Homo sapiens: one gene and its partners. The protein of the gene in region 4 interacts with the protein of the main gene of each other region in a pairwise test. Each region holds a gene or a part of one and is shown on either strand. Other genes may lie near its edges.

Region 1 (3,146 bases), on a different chromosome or scaffold from region 4:
AAAGTAATGTACATATGGCTGGATTTTTTTGCTTGCTATTCGTTTTTGTGTCACTTGGCATGAGATGTTTATTTTGGACTATTGTATATAATGTATTGTAATATTTGAAGCACAAATGTAATACAGTTTTATTGTGTTACCATTTGTGTTCCATTTGCTTCTTTGTATTGTTGCATTTAGTACAATCAGTGTTTAAACTTACTGTATATTTATGCTTTCTGTATTTACCAGCTATTTTAAATGAGCTGTAACTTTCTAGTAAAGAATTGAAAAGCAAATCTCACTAATGATACACAGATAGATAAAGCAAGTCTATCAACATTAAAAATACTAAAAAATAAAGACACACACAGAGCATTTTAGTGACATCCACTACTTATTGCCGCTATGAGTTAGAGTCTATCAGTGTTCTTGTTATAACCCCCTATTTTCAGGGGGTTAAAAATCAGCTTTAAAAAAATACATAAAAATTTCATCTTAAAGCACTTTCATTTTATACCAACGTGAAAAGTGCCATTTTTAGAATAACTTTAAAGCTTAACAGGTTTCCTTTTAATATCCTTTTTTTGTGTGCTCTTTACTTACACAATGGCTTTGTTTTGCTTTTTCAGCCACACCCCTTATGTGAACTAGTGCCTTTGGGTATCACGTAAAATTTTTTCCAAAGGGTTACTTTAAAAATCTGTTACCACAATTATGAGATGATTTTTAAGTGATAAATTAAACTTCTTCTTGTATAAATTCTGCCCAGATCTCTCCACAAGAGCTGAGGGTTTCATAACTTTATGGCTTAATAAATGTATGACACTGAAAAGATTTGAGTGTGAATCTACTGAAATCACTATAATGCACATTGAAGCTATGATGGTATTTGAGTAGTGAGGTTACTTTTGATCGGAGCAACATAATGCTCATAGAATCTTCTAGAAGAAGAGAAACAAAGGGATTGATAAAATGCTGAGAACTAGTGATTATATATTTTTCTGTATTTACCTGACATTTATTTTAATGTTCAAAAAGTAAACACTTTAAGTTTGATGTGTTTTACTCTCTCATTGTTTTAAGTAATTGCCAACTCAGAATACATCATTCTTAGGCTGAAATTTGTCTTTCCATTTTTTAAGGTGAAATAGTACTACCTTACGTGATAGCATACAAAGAAGAAAGCTCTAGAAAGAGAAATTATGGAGAATGATTATTTAAATTACAATTAAGGAAATGAGAATATGATCCCCTCTTCCGAGTTGCCCACAAACTTGCTTCTTTGCTTTTGCTCCCTGTAATAGAACTACTTTTCAACAAATCTAATTTTGCACGGCACCGTTAACCATATTTTCACTACAGCAAACTTAGTGCTATGGGTTTTCTTTTTCTTTGTTTTTTTCTTGATCACTTGTATAGGAAACAATATTTTCCAGTGTTATTTGCATATATATTTTGTCCTTCCAATATATGCATTACAGATGAAAATTAAATGTTATACCTGAATTCTTGGGTTGGGGCCAAAATATTAAGCTGAAAATAATGCTGGTGTGGATTTGTTTTAAAACAAAGCTTTATTATGAACATGCATGTGAATCTGGATATTGCCTCTTATTTTTAAGAAAATGGTTCTGTGAAAAGTGAATGATATGTATTTTTCCAAATGCTTCATGGTTAGGAGTCTTCAAGTTCCATGTTCCCCAGATTTGAGATATACTAAAGAAAGAAATTCAAAAGTAGCTATTTGGGGCCCACAAAAATAACTATTATTTTAGCCTTAGAGCCTTACACTTGTTTCATGAAGAGAAAGGACTTGCATAACCAAAATAAACAAAGCAAGACAAATTAAAAATATGTGGGGGAGAGATCAGTGAAAAGTGGTTTTCTTAATGCAGCCCTGCTGGTCCCCATTAACAATTGCTTGAAATTCACATGGATGTAAAATTATAATTGTCAGGATCTTATTCAGATGATCTTTTAAGGTTTAACTGGTTTTGCTTTTGTTTATCTATATGTCAAAATACTTGTAAATTGGGAACAAACTTCTCTCAGCTTCTTGAAGTTGTTCAACTATCCTTGCCACTGGAAGACCAAACAAGGTTTTCACTGCTTTTTCTTTTACATAATATGCTGAGAATTATTTCTTATGCTTTTTACTACAAACAAAATTACTCACCTGGATTAAAGATTAAGGCCTTAATCTGTTTAGATTATCTTTAATCTCCATGAAATCGTGAAATAAGACAAGAATAGTGTTTCAGCTGTAGGCCATTTTACAGCTAATTGCCCATAAATTGTAGCATTTATTGACCTGAAGTACTAAGCTAATTGTCTTGACTACTCAAAGCCCCTGAATTGTTGTCAACTTTCCCCTTTGTGTTGTGTAGCCCTAACGTCATTTAGCTTGTTGTCTGATGCCTCCAGTAGGACACCTCCGATGGAGCTTTGATTTCTGAGCAGCGAAAGCTCCCTTCCTAAGATGCATCTCGCATAGGCTGCCTATGATGAAGGACCGTGCACCTCCACTCCAACAGAGTGCTGAGTTTAAAAGTTGACCTGTGTTTGTAATTTCACTTTCATCTTGCTTAATAAATATCTGCTGGATTCTTTCATTCACTTTTTTACATTTGGATTTATGTTTTTAATAAAAGGGGTGTTACACTATTTGATTGCACTTAATTGGCAAAATTTAAGATGATCTCTAGAAAGCATATGTTAAGTCCATGAAAAGAAAAAAAAGGTGTGTAAGGACATTTACTTTCTAAAGCTAAGTCATAACAAGCATAGACAAAGCACCCCAAATGTTTCTCTGAATGTAATGTTTAGGATCTCTGCGCTAGGTCGTTTACCGCTATTTATTTTTATGGGGAAAATAAAACTCTCAAAAATGAAGGTAGCAATTGCTGGGTGTAATTTTGCACATTTATACAAATTTTAGGTGATCTTTCTGAAAGCAACTCTGTTGCTGTTGTCAGATTAAATTTCAAATTTTCTATTCTGTATAATGAATTAAAACAGGAAACTCAATTCTACATTTTTACAGAAGAGATGTTGCACCTTAACTGAAACAGGGCACTGAAAATTATATCTGTAGTAAAACATGCCATGCAAAAGTGTTTTCCTTTTAACTATCACTTTAGGCAAACCACTCTCTGAATCATCAC
Region 2 (3,500 bases), on a different chromosome or scaffold from region 4:
CTGAGGTAGGAGGATTGCTTAAGCCCAGGAGTTGGAGACCAGCCTGGGCAACATAGTGAGACCTTGTCTCTATAAATATATCGATATAAAAGAAAGTAATTTAAATATGACTATTGTTAATTTTTTTTCCAGGAGGATTTGACAGCTAAGGATATTGAAGAAATTATTGATGAGCTCAAGGCTGGCAAAATCCCAAAACCAGGGCCAAGGTATGCTTTATTTATATATAGGAAGTTTTAGTGGCTCACCTAAATTAATCTTTCAGATAAACTTGATTTAAAAAATTTTATACCTTAAGTTCATAGGAATTGGTAGGAGCTTTGGATAGTATTATCTATATGAATCTCATCTAGAGCAAGAATAATTTTTTTTCTAAAACCCTGTCTGATAATCATCCGATACCTGAATATTTATAGAGAAGGAAATTTTACTACAAATAGAAATCTATTCCATTATTTAAAAGTTCATACTGATAGAAGATTGACCCAAAGACCATCTCCCTCTAATTTCTACCTAAAAATCCAATTCTGCCCTTTGAATCAACAAAAGATAATTTTAGTACCTCTTCCAAATGACAGCTCTTCAATTACTTGAAATAGCTACCCTGTCTTCCCCTTATCTTTTTCTCAGATGGAATATCCACAATTGTTTCATTGTTTTTCTCATATGACATAGCTTTGGTCTCCCTCTGTGGGTTTTCTAGTTGGCTAGTGACTATTTAATGCTTTAATGTGATGCTTAAACTAATCATGGTTTTTTGTCTTTTTTATTTATTTATATTTTGAGACGGAGTCTCACTCCGTCACCCAGTCTGGAGTACAGTGGCGCAGTGGCACAATCTCAGCTCAGTGCAAGCTCCACCTCCCAGGTAGAAGTGATTCCCCTGTCTCAGCCTCCCGAGTAGCTGGGATTACAGGTGCCAGCCACCACGCCCGGCTAATTTTTTGTATTTTTAGTAGTGACGGGGTTTCACTGTATTAGCCAGGATGGTCTCCGATCTCCTGACCTCGTGATCTGCCCGCTTCAGACTCCCAAAGTGCTGGGATTACAGGCATGAGCCACTGTGCCCGGCCTAATCATGGTATTTTGAGATACATACTGAGCAGCACAGAGCATTGTGGGACTGCCTCCTTTGTTCCAGACATTATGCTTGTAATAATTGTGCCTAATTATATCAACTCCTACTTCAGAGACATTACACAATTAACTGCACTTCATAATACCTAGATCTTTTTCTGTTCACTATTTATCCAGGTTGCTCCCGTCCCATACCTGTGTTACATTAATTACTTTCCTTTCAGTTATGAACTTGGATTTTCACTTTTAAACAAACCCTTATTCCATGTATGTGTTCAATCACTCAAAATTCTCTCTTAATACTAGCAAATGTTCTCATGGTTTTAGTCATAATCCCTCAAATTTTTTGTTTATGTATATAAATTTTTTCTTCCCTCAGCACATTTGGAGTTTTTGATGTCCATACGGTATTCTAATGTTTTAAAACAGCTGTGATGTGCTCTTACTCCCGTTTTAAAATATTTTTCTTAAGCTTTATTATAAATAACAATTCCCTGAAGTAGAATTACTAAGAGGGTATGAGTGGTTCTAGAGTTTGCTCTCTAAAACTACTAATAATACCCTACTTAATGAGAAAATGAGGTCAGTTCAGGATAACTTAAGTTTAGTAAATGCTAGCTGGCCCCTGTTGACCATTACTTTCTTTTCTAAGAAACGTATACTGTTCTTAACAACCTGAGCCTATAGAATTGAATTTGCTTAAAGAGTGTTGGCATTTTCTTCCTAATTCCTCACTTTCTTGGGTATACCCCTTTTTTTAGGAGGTAAATCATTTCCCTGGTGAAAAATCATTCTCCTTTATGGAGGCAACTGAAGTAAAACCTTTAGTCATCTATCATTACAGTATCTTTCTTAGCTAGTGCTCCTATCCCTTACTTATTCTTGCTTTAAATAGACACTGTCCCCCCAAAAAGTACAAATTTCATAATATTTTCCACAAGCTTCATCTGCTTTTTAGGATTCAGGTATTTTAAAATAAATTCATGCTATTCTTAGGTTTGTACTTCAGCCCATAACTTCTTTCACCTTTTGGGTACTCTAAAGAATATCTCAAGTGCAGATTTCCTTGTGAAATCCACTTGGGTTCTTTAGATGGCCCCTCTCTTCTGATTAGATGTTTTGAATTCTATAGTCATAACTTTGGTGTTGGGCTTCCTCCCCCCCACTCCTCCCCTCACCCGAGATGGAGTCTTGCTCTGTCACTTAGGCTATAGTGCAGTGGTGTGATCTCGACTCACTGCAACTTCTGCCTCCCAGGCTCAAGCGATTCTCCTGCCTCAGTCTCCCGAGCAGCTGGGACTATAAGAACGTGCCACCACCATGCCCAGCTAATTTTTGTATTTTTAGTAGAGACGGGGTTTTACCATGTTGGCCAGGGTGGTCTCGAACTCCTGACCTCAAGTGATCTGCCTGCCTTGGCCTCCCAAAGTGCTGGGATTACAGGCTTGAGCCACCACGCCCGGCCACTTTGGCGTTTAGAATCTTCTGCTTTGCTTCTTGTGAACTGTGGGATCTATGGTTCATATTAATCTAGTATTACTCTCCTGCCACACAAATTGATACCTGCTTTGTCTACTTTGTTATGTCACATTACATTAAATACTCAACAGTAATTTTTTTCACAAATTTTTTTGAGTGCCTGCTGTGTGTCAGGCATTATTTTAGGTTATGAATACAATTATGAACAAGATAAAGTTCTCATATATCTTCTAGTGATGGAGACAGATGACTAGTGTAATATGTGAGTGATAAAAAGGCTACACAATAAAATGTAGCAGGTGTTAGGGGATAGATAGGGAGTAAATTTAGTGAGGAGAGGCCGCTTAGAGGTGGTAACATTTGAGCCATGACCTGAATGAAGAGCTAGAGGGAACCATGTAAAGAGCTGAAGGAACAATGTTCCAGGGAGGGGAAAGAGGATGTATCAGGGTCCTGGAAGAAAAGTAAGGTAACAGTATGGCTGCAGTGAGGTGCTCAAGCAAGAAAGCAGTGGAAGGGGTCAGAGGAGATAAGGGCCCAGATAAGTAATCTGGGCTGAATCTTAAATATAATAAAAACTGTTGGAATGTTTTCAGTAGGGAATGGAATGAGCAATCTTAAAATACTGCCATAGTTGCTATGTGGAGATTAGAATTTAGTAGATATGTGGGACTAAGGATTTATGAGTGATTTTCAGCTTTTTGGCTTGAGCATCTCTGAGGTTCCTTTACCGAAAATAGAGAAGATTTGTGGTAGGGCAAGTTTGGGGAAGAAAAGTCAAATTTTGTTTTAGACATAGTAAGTTTGAGATGCCTGTTAAGACATCCATGGTATGATGCTGATAGGTAGATACGAACCTGGAATATAGGGAATAGGTTAGGGCTGGAAACACAAATTGGGGATTCATCAGTTACTAAGGGTAGTATTTAAAGTTATAAATCTGG
Region 3 (3,500 bases), on a different chromosome or scaffold from region 4:
TATTTAATCCACCATTGATGGACACCTAGGTTGATTCCATGTCTTTGCTATTGTGAATAGTGCTTGAACTTATTTTTAAAACTACTTTTTCTGTGAGTGTTGGGAGGCTCTAAACAATAGATGCCATTTGAAGACAAGATTAGGGTAGATCACATTGAAATTTTATTTGAGAGTTAATAGTTGAAAATATTAATTTTGTAAAATAGAAGAGGGGGCTAATTCAGTAATATTTTCATGTATTAAAAATTAATTTGGTGTTATTATTATATATTAAAAAACTAGAATCAAACTGTTTTTATGTCTTCCCCTTTTTAACAATTCCAATTTAGCATTGTTTTACAAAATACTGCTTTTCCCACTGTTTATGAATATAGTATAAATGTTGCAGTAATTTATGACACTACCATTTACTTCCCCTTGAATTCTAGAACTTAATCGTGAATTGTTGTTGTTGTTGCAAAATGGTTGTAACAAATATTTAATAGTAAATCTGTGTAAAATGCTTTAGCAAAGTGCCGACTCAAAAAAGCTCTGGATACATGTAAATTATTTTCTTTTTTTGAGACAGAGTTTTACTCTTGCTGCCTAGGCTGGAGTGCAATGGCATGATCTCGGCTCACTGCAACCTCTGCCTCCCAGGTTGAAGTGATTCTCCTGGCTCAGCCTCTCGAGTAGCTGAGATTACAGGTTCCCACCACCACGCCCGGCTAATTTTTGTATTTTAGTGGAGACGGGTTTCACTATGTTGGTCAGGATGGTCTTGAACTCCTGACCTCAGTTGATCCACCCGCCTCAGCCTCCCACAGGGCTGGGATTACAGGCGTGAGCCACTGTGCCTGGCGGTTAATTCTTTTCTAATACACATAGAGTCATCAAAGTATAGGAAGCAAAAGTCTTGAGAGAATTTCACTGCATTGCCTATAAACGGGCAGGACTGAACCTTAGTCACATTTTTGGTTATTTCTGAATTAATAAAACTTACTACCAAGAATTATTATATTCAGTGGTATGCTGATAAAAGGTTTAACAATCAGCTTTCAAGAGGGGACACAAGTCAATGATTTATAGCATTTACATACCTCTACCATGGCTGCTTTTACTCAACATGCCATCATTGCATATAGCATTGGGAAGAAATGAGCAGCAGTGTGGCATTATATAGTATTTCCACCGTACAGATATGACAGACATAAACTACCTCAAGAACCTAGGTAATTGTAAAAATATAGTAAAATAATTAGGAACTGATGAGTTTTGTGTATTTATTATTTTATTTTTAATGCAATTTATTTCATTGTAGAGTTATATATTCTAGCTTTTAACAATGGCTTCCAAAATTCTTGAAAATTTAATATCTGGCTCTTGGGAGCCAGTATAAGCAGACTCTAGCAGACCTCCCCTCCAAAAGTATAAATTAGAGATTCCTAGTCCATGATCTGTGAATGAGTTCCTTGGGAAGTGCATAAAGCCTAAAAGATTTCTGAGGAGAAGTATTGGTTGAGTACCTAATGTTTGTCTGCCACTGTAGTTTAAGGATTTGGCAAACAGACAAAGACCAGCTCATGCAGGGCCTAGTAGGTCATAGTAAGAATTTTAGTCTTGAAAGCATTGAAAAGACATTGAAACTAGGGAGTGGTCCAGTAAAGTTGCTATTTTTTTTTAAGAAAAATTATTACTCTACCTGCAGAGTAGTGCAATTACTATTAGTAATTCACTACTACTAGTAATATCTGAGGGGATCATCAGCAGTGCATGGAAGAGATGTGCAAGTGATAATGGTGATTGGAAAAGAGTGGAGGTAATGAAAATACAACCTTTCACCAAATACCAGCTGAGCATTTATTATGTGTCATGTGCTACTATGGGTTTCATTTGAATTATTTTTAATTCTTTTCCTCCTGTTTTCTTATAGGGGATTCTTAAAATAATTAAGGTGTGTAGTTCTAGTCTTTTTATTAGATTAATTGCAAAGATCACTAATATATCCACTTTTGTTTTATTTGACAACTAACATATATTAAAAGCATACTGTGAATATGATGAAAGACAGGCCCAGGAACGAAAGACTGAAGAGACCTTATAACTGTCCTGGAATGGATCCTATACTGGAAGGATTTTTAAAATGCTCTAAAAGGTGTTATTAGTATAGTAGGCAAAAGTGGAACGTGGTCTATGGAACATGGTCTATAGATTAAAGTTCTGTGTTGGTTTTAAATTTCCTGAATGAGATCACCATACTGTGATTACATAAGAGAATAGTATTGCACTTAGGAAATATACTCAAGTGTGTATTAAAGAGCAGTAGAACATAATATATGTAACTCCTTTGAAATAGTTCATAATAAAGTAAATTAAATGTTTATACATGGATATATGTGGAGAGAATGTTAAAAATTAATGTGATAAATCTGGATAAAGGGAAAACAGGAATTTTCTGTGTTATTCTTGTTACTTTTCTACAAATTTGAAATACTTTCAAAATAAAAAATTTAAAAACCAAGGGTATATTGCTTCATGCATTGCATGAAGCTCTTAACATGAATGCACATTCGGTCATTCCACTCTAAGCTCTGGGATATTTTAGTACTGCAATTTCTGTTTTACAGATGAGTAAACTAAGGCTTCAAAAGTTAGGTAACTCACTTAAATGCATATTTTGAAAAAGTGGCCAAGTGTATTTGTTTTACTGCTGTGACCATTAAATCCTTACACAAAATATAAATACGTCTTTTAAGAAGTTTAGGAAAATGACTTTATTTTGTTTTGTTTTGTTTTTGAGACAAAGTCTCACTGTGTTGCCCAGGTTGGAGTGCAGTGACGTGATCTCAACTCACTGCAACCTCCACCTCCTGGGCTCAGACGATTCTCCTGCCTCAGCCTCCTGAGTAGCTGGGATTACAGGCATGTACCTCCACACCCAGCTAATTTTTTATATTTTTAGTAGAGATGGGGTTTCACCATGTTGGCCACGCTGGTCTCAAACTCCTGATTTCAAGTGATCCGCCCGCCTCGGCCTCCCAAAGTGCTGGGATTACAGGTGTGAGCCACTGCCCCCAGCCAAAAATGACTTTAAAAAGTTAAATTTCTATTATTACCAACCCCCTGCCTGTTTCCTGGAAGTAATTCCTGATATATTCCTCCAGAAATTTTGTATGCAATGGGAGTGTATATATGTGTGTATTCTTAAAATGGGAGTATAATAAGCATCCTGTTTATAATGTGCATTTTTTTATTCCATCTTAATCTCTTTATTGAGTGACTTTGTGAAGTAGACCACTTTATTTAAAATACTAAAAATTATTCATTAAAAAGTAATAGCGTTGTATCACCTCAGTTTGTATTTATGAGCTACATTAGATGCATTTGATATATGTATATTAATTTTTGGTATTTGGCTTTTGTCAGGTGGTTTTGGAATGTATGCTTAAAAAAGACCTCATTTATAATAAGGTCACTCCAACATTTCACCACTGGAAGATTGATGACAAGAAGTTTGGTCT
Region 4 (3,500 bases):
CGACAGAGAGAGACCCTGTCTTAAAAAAAAGAAAAAAGAAAAAAAGGGATCCATTGTGGCTGGAGTATAGAGAATCTGGGAGCAGGCAGAGATGAGAAAGTAGGGCTGGGCTGCATGGTCTCATGGCCATAGTAAGCAATTTGGGTTTTGAGCATCACAGGAAGCAGTTGGAGGGCACTGAGCAAGGAAGTGACAGGGATTTACAGTGAAAAAGTTTTTGTGATCACTGTGGAGTGATTTGGCTCTAGGTGGCGAGAGTAGGCATACACGGGTCTTGTGGCAGCCGTCCCAGCAATGAGATGACGTTTGTGGTTAGTGACATGGCGGTCAGGAGCCCAGGCTTTGGTTGTATCAGGAGGAAAATTGTCTGAACACAGACTTCCTCTCAGACCTCACCGGCTAGAAGCAGATTATGTGCCCACCCTCTGCCTTGTGGTCAAGGGGACTTTGCTATATAGTTCCTTATGATACAGTCCAAGCTGCTGTAATGAAGAGACCCCAAGTACAGGGCTCCACATAGGACAGAACTGATTCTTTTCTCCCATAATACTCCAGAGGTGTTCTGGGGCGGGCTGGCGCCTGAGCCCCATGGGGTCATCAGGGTCCCTTCTGTCTTGATCTTCCAGTGTCCTTGAGGTCAGGGGCCGGCAGTCTTGTCCTGTAAAGAGCCAGCGAGTGACTATCTTTGGCTCTGTGGACAGCCTTACAGGCCACCCAGGCCCTGTCACAGCCACTCGGTAGCTCCAAGGCGGCCGTGGACAGCGCGTGAGCAAGTGGGCGTGGATGTGCGCCAGTGAGACTTAAGTAAAACAGGCTGCAGGCCAGATTCGGCCCACCAGCTCAGAGACCACCATTTCTCAAATGCTTTGAAGTCAGGACTCCTTTCTGCCTTCAAAATTACTGAAGACCCTAACATGCTTTTATTGATGGGAGTCATATCTATTGTTACGTATCATAGTAGAAACCAAAACAGAAAATTGTAAAGTATTTATTAATGCATTTAAAAATGGCAATCACGGCTGGGCGTGGTGGCTCATGCCGGTAATCCCAGCACTTTCGGAGGCCAAGGCAGGTGGATCACCTGAGGTCAGGAGTTTGAGACCAGTCTGGCCAACCTGGCGAAACCCCGTCTCTACTAAAAATACAAAAATTATCCGGACGTGGTAACGCACGTCTATAATCCCAGCTACTTGGGAGGATGAGGCAGGAGAATCGCTTGACCCTGGGAGGCGGAGGTTGCAGTGAACCAAGATCGCACCATTGCACTCCATCCTGGGCAACAGAGCGAGACTCCATCTCAAAACAAAAATTAAAAAAAAAAATAGAGACAGGAGAGCTCGCTGCCTCTCTCTATTCTACGCCATGGGAGGACACAAAAGGAGGCCGTCGGCAGCCTGGAAGAGGTGCTCACCAGAACCCGACAGTGCTGGCACCCAGATCGCAAATTCCCAGCGGAAGGGACTGGGACAGGCCGTCATAGCTGTCATAGCGGAGCACCGTGGACTGAACTGCTATGAGCTTATTTCTCAGTTCTGGGAGCGGGAAGCTCAGAATGCCATCATGGTCAGTTCCTGGTGAGGGCCTCTGCCAGGCTGCAGGTGGCCTCCTTGCTGTGTGCTCCTGCTGGCAGAGATGGACAGAGTCCCGGTGTCCCTTTCTCTTATAAGGCCACAGCCCTATTAGGCCCAGCCCTTGTGACCTCAGTTAACTTTCATTACCAGTTAAAAGCTTCGTCTCCAAATACGGTCACACTGGGGTGAGAGCTTCCACATGTGAATTTTGGGAGACAAATTCAGGCCACAGCAGTTAGTTGGGGTGGCTTCTGAGTAGGCTGCAAAGTGTCTGCTCCCAGGGTGTGGGGTGCACGGCCCCACAAGTCCAGTGAGGGTGGTGCTGATGGTGACCTGCTGCTGCCAGGCCTGCTGCAAGCTCTTTCTGTGTTTTCTGGTTGAATCCTCAGGACAGGCTGCGGGAGGAGCTGCAGGACTGAGGTACAGAGGCCAGGGGCCCAGGGCAGGACCCAGCCTGGACTTGACTCCCTGGGATCCCAGGAAGGGCACACCCTTTCCTCACCACCCGAGTGAGCGCTGCCCCCTCACAGAGACCTCTTTGCCCCCTGGGCCAGGCAGAGCAGGTGAGTGCTTTATCTTACAGGGGAAACCGAGGCACAGAGGCCGGGCCTATCCTGGGTATGTGGGCGGCTCAGAAGCGCGGGTCCCAGGCCGGGTGCAGTGGCTCACGCCTGTAATTCCCAGCACTTTGGGAGGCCGAGGTGGGCGGATCACCTGGGGTCAGGAGTTTGAGATCAGCCTGGCCAACATGGTGAAACCCCATCTCTACTAAAAATATAAAAATTAGCAGGCGTGGTGGCGGATGCCTGTAATTCCCGCTACTCAGGAAGCCAAGGCAGGAGAATCGCCTGAACCCGGGAGCTGAGGTTGCAGTAAGCTGAGATCCGCCACTGCACTCCAACCTGGGGGAAAGAGCGAAACTCCGTCTCAAAAAATAAAAAGTAAAAAAAAAGAGCGTTGGTCCCATTGTGAGTCTGGGCACCGCGGGCAGGGTCTCGGCGGGCAGGGGTCTCACCGGCTTGTTCCCTGCAGGCGCTGCGGTCCGGGAGGCCCCATGGAGGTGGCGGTGCCCGTGAAGCAGGAGGCCGAGGGCCTGGCGCTGGACTCCCCGTGGCACCGCTTCCGCCGCTTCCACCTGGGCGACGCGCCGGGCCCGCGGGAGGCGCTGGGGCTGCTCCGCGCCCTGTGCCGGGACTGGCTGCGGCCCGAGGTGCACACCAAGGAGCAGATGTTGGAGCTGCTGGTGCTGGAACAGTTCCTGAGCGCGCTGCCCGCCGACACGCAGGCCTGGGTGTGCAGCCGGCAGCCGCAGAGCGGGGAGGAGGCGGTGGCCCTGCTGGAGGAGCTCTGGGTGAGCCTGGCGGGACTGCAAGCGGGGAAGGGAGAGGGGAAGGTGCCAGGGAAGCCACCAGGAAGCCCAGGGAGGAGCACCACTGAACCCCTGAAAACCAGTGTGACTCGCGGTGGGGAGGCTGCGGTACAGGCTGCGGTACAGCGTGGAGGGACAGTCCACGTGCGGCACCCTCCATCCCCACACCAGCTGCAAGTCAGGAGGGCCCCAAGACCCTGGCATACTTGCGAGTTCTCTAGGACTCACAGCCGTGTTCACGGTCACGGCTTATCAGAGAAGGACGTGCTGGAAGCAGCTGGGAAGAAGGCCACGAAGGCTCCAGGGAGCGCAGTTACCAGCTGTCCTCTCCCCGCACCCCGCCCGCACGCAGGGGGTCTTGCCGGCCAGGAATTCTCCTCAGACCGTGGTGTCCTGGGTTCTTACTGGGGACTCCTCCCCGTTCTGTGTGGCTGACCTCAGCCTCCCGCCCCCTGAAAGTCAAGGATACCCCCTGGTCCAAACTCTACCCCAAATTCATCTTGCTTTTGGGCTGGCCTGAGTCCCCCGGGGCAGGCAGACCCTCCTTATCATGCGTGAGG

Evidence for each region. The genes of interacting proteins can lie anywhere in the genome.
Region 1: the proteins of ZNF444 (region 4) and LMO3 interact in binary tests that used the Homo sapiens proteins (3 or more experiments, as listed by UniProt).
Region 2: the proteins of ZNF444 (region 4) and NDUFV2 interact in binary tests that used the Homo sapiens proteins (3 or more experiments, as listed by UniProt).
Region 3: the proteins of ZNF444 (region 4) and SPRED1 interact in binary tests that used the Homo sapiens proteins (3 or more experiments, as listed by UniProt).

What each region holds. Positions count from the first base shown.
Region 1 is NC_000012.12:16,547,872-16,551,017, reverse strand, and holds the end of LMO3 (LIM domain only protein 3), read left to right. Parts: 3' UTR 1-2,646; downstream 2,647-3,146.
Region 2 is NC_000018.10:9,126,699-9,130,198, forward strand, and holds part of NDUFV2 (NADH dehydrogenase [ubiquinone] flavoprotein 2, mitochondrial precursor), read left to right. Parts: intron 1-132; coding exon 133-209; intron 210-3,500.
Region 3 is NC_000015.10:38,318,836-38,322,335, forward strand, and holds part of SPRED1 (sprouty-related, EVH1 domain-containing protein 1), read left to right. Parts: intron 1-3,405; coding exon 3,406-3,500. UniProt on the Homo sapiens protein: Tyrosine kinase substrate that inhibits growth-factor-mediated activation of MAP kinase. Negatively regulates hematopoiesis of bone marrow.
Region 4 is NC_000019.10:56,144,287-56,147,786, forward strand, and holds part of ZNF444 (zinc finger protein 444), read left to right. Parts: exon of another isoform or gene 1-1,563; intron 1,564-1,960; 5' UTR 1,961-2,134; intron 2,135-2,603; 5' UTR 2,604-2,625; coding exon 2,626-2,922; intron 2,923-3,500. UniProt on the Homo sapiens protein: Transcriptional regulator. Binds to the 5'-flanking critical region of the SCARF1 promoter.